Linked DNA regions of Homo sapiens. The protein of the gene in region 1 purifies or fractionates together with the protein of each later gene. This does not show direct contact. Each region holds a gene or a part of one and is shown on either strand. Other genes may lie near its edges.

The links.
Region 2: the proteins of ZNF584 (region 1) and MTCL2 purify together in Homo sapiens (affinity purification with mass spectrometry; one large-scale study listed by BioGRID and IntAct). This does not show direct contact.

The regions. Positions count from the first base shown.
Region 1 is NC_000019.10:58,407,169-58,411,745, forward strand, and holds the start of ZNF584 (zinc finger protein 584), read left to right. Parts: upstream 1-1,480; 5' UTR 1,481-1,979; coding exon 1,980-1,997; intron 1,998-2,772; coding exon 2,773-2,923; intron 2,924-4,577. UniProt on the Homo sapiens protein: May be involved in transcriptional regulation.
Region 2 is NC_000020.11:36,853,534-36,857,341, reverse strand, and holds part of MTCL2 (microtubule cross-linking factor 2), read left to right. Parts: intron 1-3,808. UniProt on the Homo sapiens protein: Microtubule-associated factor that enables integration of the centrosomal and Golgi-associated microtubules on the Golgi membrane, supporting directional migration. Preferentially acts on the perinuclear microtubules accumulated around the Golgi.

The DNA.
Region 1 (4,577 bases):
TTTTGAGTTCATATGGTCCACCTGCTGGTGGGAATGTAGAAGCCTTCAGACCTATGAAGGATGATGAGTTTTTGAGAGTCCAGGCCAGGAGAGGCCAAAACACCATGACCCCAGCAAGCGAGAATAATCCTTACTCCAAGACAAACACAGACCTGCAAAAAATGAACATTCAGGGAAGGCTCCCAGGCAGGACCCAGTGGGCCCACACGCACCCATGTCAGTGCATGCAGTGCCTGGAATCTTACAGGAAGTGACCGAGCTGAACGTGACCAGCTGTGAAGATTCAGAGACTTCTGAGCCCCGATCTTGGCCACTCACGGCCCTTGGGTAGAATGTGTGGGGTGTCCACTCAGCCACTTGTTAGAGGAGGTGGCATGATCTGGGCCTCAGTGCCACGACCAACAGCGACTTCCAAGGGGAACATGGAAAGAACAGAGGAAAAAAACCAGAGTTGAGGCTGGGGAGAGTTATGGTGCCAGTGGTCTCACCCAGCACTGAGTGCAAAGTTCTCCAGCACCACTTCAGGTAGAAGCTCCTCTGGACCTTGCCTAAGAACTCCGTTCGTCCGGGAGGACGCAGGCCCACCTGCTCTAACATGAACGCGTCTGAATTCAGCGGAGGACACCCAGGAGCCCGGTTATTCTCCTGCCAGCGTCCTCCCCTGATGTGTCCCTGACCCCGTGCTCTGACGTACTCAGCCATGTACTCACTCTCCTCTCCCAGGCCCCCATACCTGAGATCACCATGGCCTGATATGGGGTAGACTACAAGCCTACCGTGCCTCAGCCATGTGCAGGGCGACCTGTCCCTGGCATCCACACCTGTGGCCCATACGTCGCCCGCATTGTGGGGCGCCGAAAACCCAACACAACTGAAACACAACTGCTGACCTTCCCCCTAAGCCGCCTCTAAACGAGGTCCCTCGGCCCCTGGTCCCAGCCGCTCTTTGAAGACTTGCCTGATGACAGGCATGTACCATGTTTTTGGCTGGGACATTTTTCTGAGCCTTGCTCCGGGCTCCGTAAAGCGGACACGGTGCCAGGGAGAGAATTTCGGGGCGGTTGCGGGCACAGGCGGGCTTCTGCGGAGGCCCTGGCGAACGCCCCCGCGCGGCGCGGTCCGATGGCCCCATGGGGCCGCCCCTCCACTGTGAGGTCACCGGGGTTCAGCAACATTCACTGCGGCTAGGACGCGTACAGGTCACTGAGGCAGAACTTCCCGATTCTCGCGCCTTCGTTCGTTTCTGCGGACCAGCGGAGACTCCTCCACACCGCCCACCGCCCAATGATCCCACTGCCGCAAACCGCCCCAAAGCCAGCGCCGAAAGCCGACGCCGGAAGCCCCGCCCCACGCAGGGCCCGCCCGAACGTTCCCGTTCCTGGGCCGCCATTGGCCAAGTCTGAACGGCCCCACGTCGAGGCTCCTTATGGGAAATGTAGTTCACGTCCCGCTTCAGGAGCTAGCGGCGCCCTCCCTTATCGCCTTGGCAACGACCCAGCCGCGCCGCGAGGAGAGCCGGGAATGGAGGTCGTGGCGTGAGGGGCGCCGAGCGAGGGGAGGCGCGGGCCACGGGAGTTCCGGGAGTTCCGGCGTTGCCCGGCAGTCCGCAGTCCTCGGCGGGAAGGCTGTCCCGGCGCCTCAGGCAGCTCTGCGTGGGCCGGGGTGACTTCCTCGCGATCCCCTGCGCGAGGTGAAGGGCAGGGACCTTTGCCGCGCCTTCCACGCGCCGTGCCCCACCGGCGAGTGGCTCCATCTTCCTCAGACTTATCGCTCGCGGACAGGCGCCGTGGGTCTCCCGGGCCTCCGTACCGTCCTCCTTCCCAGCGGCTCCGGGAAGCGGTTCCCTGTCTTCGGACGCATTTCACCCGCGCGGGGAGAGCTTCCCGGGAAGGTTCCACGGCGGCCGAGGGTTTCCGCGCCCGGGACGCGTTTCGGCTGAGGCCGTGGGTCCAGTCCACGGGTTCTGCCCGCACGGTCCAATGGCCGGGGAGGCGGAGGTGAGCAGAGGATGCCTCCGAGGAATGAGGGGGCCCACCAGGTGGGGGGCGGCGTGTGCCAGGGCAGAGTTGGAGGAGGGCAGGAGATCTGCGTATGATTCCAGGGGGAGGTCTTTGATGCACGGCTGGGGCATGCCCTTGGCAGTGGGAGCCATTGGAGATGTGCCGCAGGACTGGGACAGGATGGGGTCGTAGTTGCTGTGCCAGGCCCTCTGGAGACGCATGTGCAGAACGGCGTGTGGAAGGCCAGGCAATTGCCTATAGGGTAAACTGGGGACGTTGTGCTGGGGGTGTACAGTTTTAGGCATTCTGTTGTCCAGTTTTGTGCCTGTTGAGCAGGAGGCAAACTGGACCCTGGGACCAGGTACTTGAGACCTAAGGGAGAAGGATGAGCATAGGTTTGGTTGCGTCTGAGAGGTATGATCTCTGGGACTGGAATTGGCAGGCAGGAGATAGAGTGGAGCCTGTGCCCTTGGCCCTGCACATAGATGGCATCAGTCTGGTCACCAACCTGATGTCGCTTTGGGCTGGACACAGTTTCCAGTAGTAACACCAGAAGCATCAATAACACCAGCAGCTCTGATATTCCTCTGGGATAGGAGAAGGAAGGTATAAGGGTATGTGTAGGGAGTAAGGTGGGGAAGAGTTTAGAGCTCATAGGGAAAGATAATGTCAGGGGGAGATGTGATAGGACCCTGAGATACAGGTCAAGGGCCTGAATGTGTCCATCTGTCCATATTTTGGTTGTTTTTTTCTGCCCATCATTGACCCCAAGGCTCAGTTGGACCCATCATTGCAGGGCTTGGTGATGTTTGAGGATGTGACGGTATATTTCTCCAGGGAGGAGTGGGGGCTCCTTAATGTGACCCAGAAGGGCCTATACCGGGATGTGATGCTGGAGAACTTTGCACTCGTTAGCTCACTGGGTAAGTCTCTTACACTGTCCCCCAGCACACTGACTACCCCCTCATTTTCCCCATGCGAAGTTCTGTCCATAACGAAGCCAGACCATGGGGGCTCTTTCCTTCCCAGATTCCCTGTTGTAGGTATTGTGGGTGGTGGGACTCGGTGGTGGGACTCGGCGGTGTGCTCTTTCCCTGCCTTTCTCTGAGCAATGCTGTTGGCAGCCTCAACACCTCTTGCCCCAGGAGCTAGTGGAGCAGGTTTTGGGGGTCAGATGTTTCATAGTTTGCCCACCAAATCCCACCAAGCTCTGCCTTTTCCTGGCCATGTGACTCTCTTGAAGACATGGCTTCTCTGTGCTCTGGGTTTTGCCTCCCTACAAAAGAAATTTTACAGGGACCTCCCTGGGCCAGGCTTGAGCCATGAATTTTAATCAGAACGGTTTGGGAAATATATATATATATATATATATATATATATATATATATATGTGTATATATATATGTATATATATGTATATATATGTATATATATGTATATATATGTGTATATATGTGTATATATGTGTATATATATGTGTATATATGTGTATATATGTATATATGTGTATATATATGTATATATGTATATATATATGTATATATGTGTATATATATATGTATATATATATATGTGTGTATATATATATATATATGTATATATATATATAATTTTTTTTTTTTTTTTTTTTTTTTTTTTTTTGAGACAGAGCCTCACTCTGTTGCCCAGGCTGGAGTGCAGTGGCGCAATCTCGGCTCACCACAACCTCTGCCTCCAGGGTTCAAGCGATTCTCCTGCCTCAGTCTCCCGAGTAGCTGGGACTACAGGCTCGCGCCACCATGCCTGGCTAATTTTTGTATTTTTAGTAGAGACAGGGTTTCACTTTGTTGGCCAGGCTGGTCTTGAACTCCGGACCTCATGATCTGCCTGCCTTGGCCTCTCAAAGTGCTGGGATTACAGGCGTGAGCCACTGCGCCTGGCCACAAAGGTACTTCTTTCGTTAAATTTATTCCTAAGTACTTTATTCTTCACTGTTAAGTATGGTGTTAGCTGTTGGTTTTTTGCAGATGCCCATTTCAGGTGAGGAAGTTCCCTTCTCTTTCTAGTTCATTTAATGTGTTTATTAAGAAAAGTCATGGCCAGGTGCAGTGGCTCATGCCTGTAATTTCAGCATTTTGGGAGGGCGAGGCAGGTGGATTACCTGAGGTCAGGAGTTCAAGACCAGCGTGGTCAACATGGTGAAACCCCATCTCTACTAAAAATAGAAAACTAGCCAGGTGTGGTGGCACATGCCTGTAATCCCAGCTACTAGGGAAGCTGAGGCAGGAGAATCGCTTGAACCTGGGAGGTGGAGGTTGCAGTGAGCTGAGATCGCACCATTGCACTCCAGCCTGGGCAACAAGAGTGAAACTACGTCTCAAAAAAAAAAAAGAAAAGAAAGGTCACTAGATTTTGTCAAATGCTTTTCCAATGTCTAATGAAATGATCATGTGATTTTTGTCCTCTCTTCTGTTAATGTAGTATATTAGAATAATTGATTGCCTTTTCTTTTTTTGAGACGGAGTCTTGTTCTGTCGCCAGGCTGGAGTGCAGTGGCGCGATCTCGGCTCACTGCAACCTCCACCTCCCGGGTTCAAG
Region 2 (3,808 bases), on another chromosome or scaffold:
ACACATCACCAAACAGACACAACGGAGGCTCAGACCCTGCTGCAACCCCCACGTCAGAAACACATTCTCATATACACATCTTACACCCCTAGACACACCCGGATATGTCCCAGAGACAGACTGACATCCTGCAGACACACTCAGACTTATCAGAAGTACACATGTAGGCGGAGACACAAACCCACACAGACGTTATACACACACACTAGCATCCACAGAAGTCTGCACATCTACCCTTGCCAGGCTGGCCCAGGCACAAGCTCACCACCCGGGTACCTCCCCTGCCTCTTCTACAAAGAGAGCAGCAGAGACTTGCACACCTACCCGAGGCTTACAGACACCCACCAAGGGGACTCCCACATGCACATCAGCAGGGACACAGCACAGTCTGGCATGCAAACATTAGGCATGTAGCATTTGCCCACAGGAGCCAGAGGCTCTCAAACCAGGGAACCTAGACACACGCACACACGTGCGCGCACGCACACACACACACACACACGCTGTGACATTTCATCCACACACAGAAACAGGAAATCCTGGTCTGTGTCTCCCTGGAGCTAATGTGTACAAACTACTACTGTTTTCAGTGGCTCACTAGACTTACTTCTACAAGGCTGCTGGGAACACTAAGGAGTGTGGCCAGGGCCTTGACTTTGTAACCTTCTGGAGCTGGGGGTCTTGGGGTCCTGGGTGGTGGGTGGATGGGGGTGGTAGGTCTTGAAGTCAGAAGAAGCTACACCGAAGTCCCCCAGGTCCCTGATGCCCAGCTCCTGGGCCCAGGGCCAGTGGGGCTGAGTGAAGTGGACCGATTGTCGAGCTGCCCACAGAAGAAACACTGCCCGGGGGCAACTCCCTTCTAATCTCCTTGGAATTTCCTGCTGGCCCTATCTCCCCCTTCTCCCCCTGTTCCCTTGCTGGGGGCTGCAGAGGGCCATGCCACTCCCATCTATAAAGGGTGCCCCATTCTGGCTGGGGAATGATGGAGGCAAGGGTAGAGGTGGCTAGAGGAGCTATGGGAGCTCAGAGGAGGGACTTGGCAGACTTCCTGGAGGAGGAGGTGTCCTTGGAGCTGGGGAGTTAGCCTCAAGTGGCTGTCTCTGTGCCCAGCTCTTAGAACAGTGCCTGCCATGTTGTAGGGGCTCAATAAATATGTGTACAATTAAGTGAAAGGCAGTAGGCAGGGCCTGGAGGTGGACCACAGGCTTGAAACGGAAAAGCTGGAGGGAGTGGTGGGAGCTGGCAGGGATGGGGAGAGTCTGGGAAGGGGCGTTGGGCTGGCTTGGGAAGGGCATTGAATGCCAAGCCAAGGGAGCACCTTGCTGGGAGTGGTCTTGTTGCAGCAAAGCTGCAGCCACCTCCTTTTATGTGTCTGCAGCCCTGGGCCTGAGGCCTGCCCTGCCGGAGAGGCCTGGGGAGGGAGGAGAGCCAGGCTGTGTGGTCTAGGGGCCAACTCCACCTCTGGAGTCAAGTCTGGAGCCAAACCTCACTGTGTCACCTCCTCCGTGTGCATGCTGTCCCTGTGCAAACCCCTCACCAAGACTCCGTCTTCCTCCTGTAAAATGGGGATGTGATCCTTTCTAGTGGGGCACTTGGGAGGCTGACAGCTCAGATGTTCTGTGCACCTAGCACCATCCTGGCACAGAGGAGGGGAGGAGGCCCCGTGTCTTGCATAGCCTCCGGGGCAGAGAGAGTCCCCTAGGAAAGGGGCGCAGCTAAGTTCAAGCAAGGGCCTGCCCAGCAGCCAAGGTTTTCACTGAGGTCATTCCCCTAGTCCCCACATGCATGACCTCATCCATGGTCACGTTCACTCCCCTTGGTGCCGGAAGGAACTTGGAGCTGGGGTGCTCCATGCCAGGCTGACCCTGGCATCACTGGAGGCCTCAGTCAGCACTGCATCTACCTGCTTTGCGGTAGTGAGGCACAGCAGGGGTCAGAGCAGGTGGAAGCAGCAGGCCAGCCCTTTGTTCTCCGAGGTCCAGGGTGGTTGGGAGAGAGCACTGTGATCTGGAGCCAAGCTGACTGGGCTGGAATCCCAGCTCTGCCTTTTCCTTTCTGAGCTTTCCCTTTCTGAGCCTCGGTCTCGTCATCTGTAGAATGGGGATGTGGATGTCCTTGCCCCGCACGTTGCCGTGAGGGTTCCGTAAGAGAAAGTGTGCAGGTGTGGGTCCCATTAGCCAGGTCTGGCTCCTGGGAAGGACCCGACAGCACTTGGCGCTTGCCTGTTATATCTGGCTCTGGTGTGACCCCCGTGACCCCAGGTTAAGCTGGGTGCTTGATGACAGGGGCTGTGCTTGGCTCTGGGTGTCCCTCTGTGGGTGTTGGCTTGGGGCATCAGTCTGAGTGTTATGCACAGAGCTGCACTGCATTTTGGGCACCCCCAAACGTATATCCCTGTCTGTGTCCCCCCTTCCCTCCCCCACGGCGTCGTGTCACTCTTCCCTGAATGGCCCAGGCTAGTGCCTCCAGCTTAGTAACTGGTGATACACATTTGCTAATGGAAGGACACCTTTGGCGGCCCCTCATTCTCAAATGGAGGTGAATCATCTCTCACTGCCTGAGCCACAAGGAAAAGCTCAGCCTCTATGAAAAAAATTCTGGGGTTCCCTAGCTAGGCTGGATCAGCTGAACATCTTTACTCTGGTTGGGGCCCAGGCCTGCTTTGGGTCTTCTGGGCTCGAGTCAGTTGCACCAGCCTCTCCCCTCCCCGCCTCTCCTTGACCCTACCCCATGGTGGAGCAGCCTGTGTGGTCCTGCCTCCCACAGCCTCACCCACCCCTGCCCCGCCCAAGCTCTGCGGGTGCTGGACACACCCCGGCCTCTGTCCCGTGCTCTTGCTCTTCCCATCCGGCCTTTGTGCTTGCAGTTCCCGGCTCCTTCCCTTGGTTTCTTCCTCCACCTTTGAGCGCTCAGCCCCAGCAGCAGCTCCCCAGGTCAGGCTCCTGTGTCAGACACCTTGGAGCTCCCTGGAGCTTCCTTTGGGGCATTTACCACGATGTTGATTAGATTATTAATGGGGTAATGATAGGTTTCATGCCATCACTGCCCCACCTTTCCCTGCATGAGGGCAGGGACCTTCCAGGGTAATTAGCTCCTTCCTTTTACAAAGGGAGAAACTAAGGCCCAGAGAGGTTAAGGGGCTTGTTAGAGGTCATGCAGCCTGTAAGTGGCAAGAGGCAAGACTGGGGTCTTGTGCTTCTCTCCAGGATGCCAGGCAGGGGGAATGGCAGGGGTGTGAAGTGCTGGGGTGTCCTGGAGCTTCAGGCTTTGTGGCCTTGGGCCACTCTCTTTGGAGCTTTGCCTTCTATCCCTAAAGACCTCAGACCCCTGCTCTGAGTTTTTGAGATTTCGCTGCAACCCAGAGGGTGTTTGGGGGATGTTTTAAACACATCCAGGTCCAGATGCTGCCTTCCTTCCTGTTCACATGGAAAGGATGGGAGGAAACTGTCAGGCGCTTCCTGACACGAATGCCCCAGAGGCCGTAGGGCCTGTGGATATCTCCCTGCTCTGCCAGGTAAGGCCTTGAATGGGAGAGTGACAACAGTGACAAGCCAGATGTGGCCTTGGTGGGCAGTGGTCTCTTACCAACAACAACCACCACACACACACACACACACACACACACACACACACACACACCCCTCCCTGATAGAGCATCTGTAGTGTCTCTTGTGCAGAACTGTACCAGACGGATCTGGGAGGCTCACTCCTGACTGGCTGCGTAGACCTTATCTTCCTGGGCCTCCGTTTGCTTGTCTGTGAAATGGGGATAAAATAATAATAGTGCCTGCCTCTAAGGATCATCACT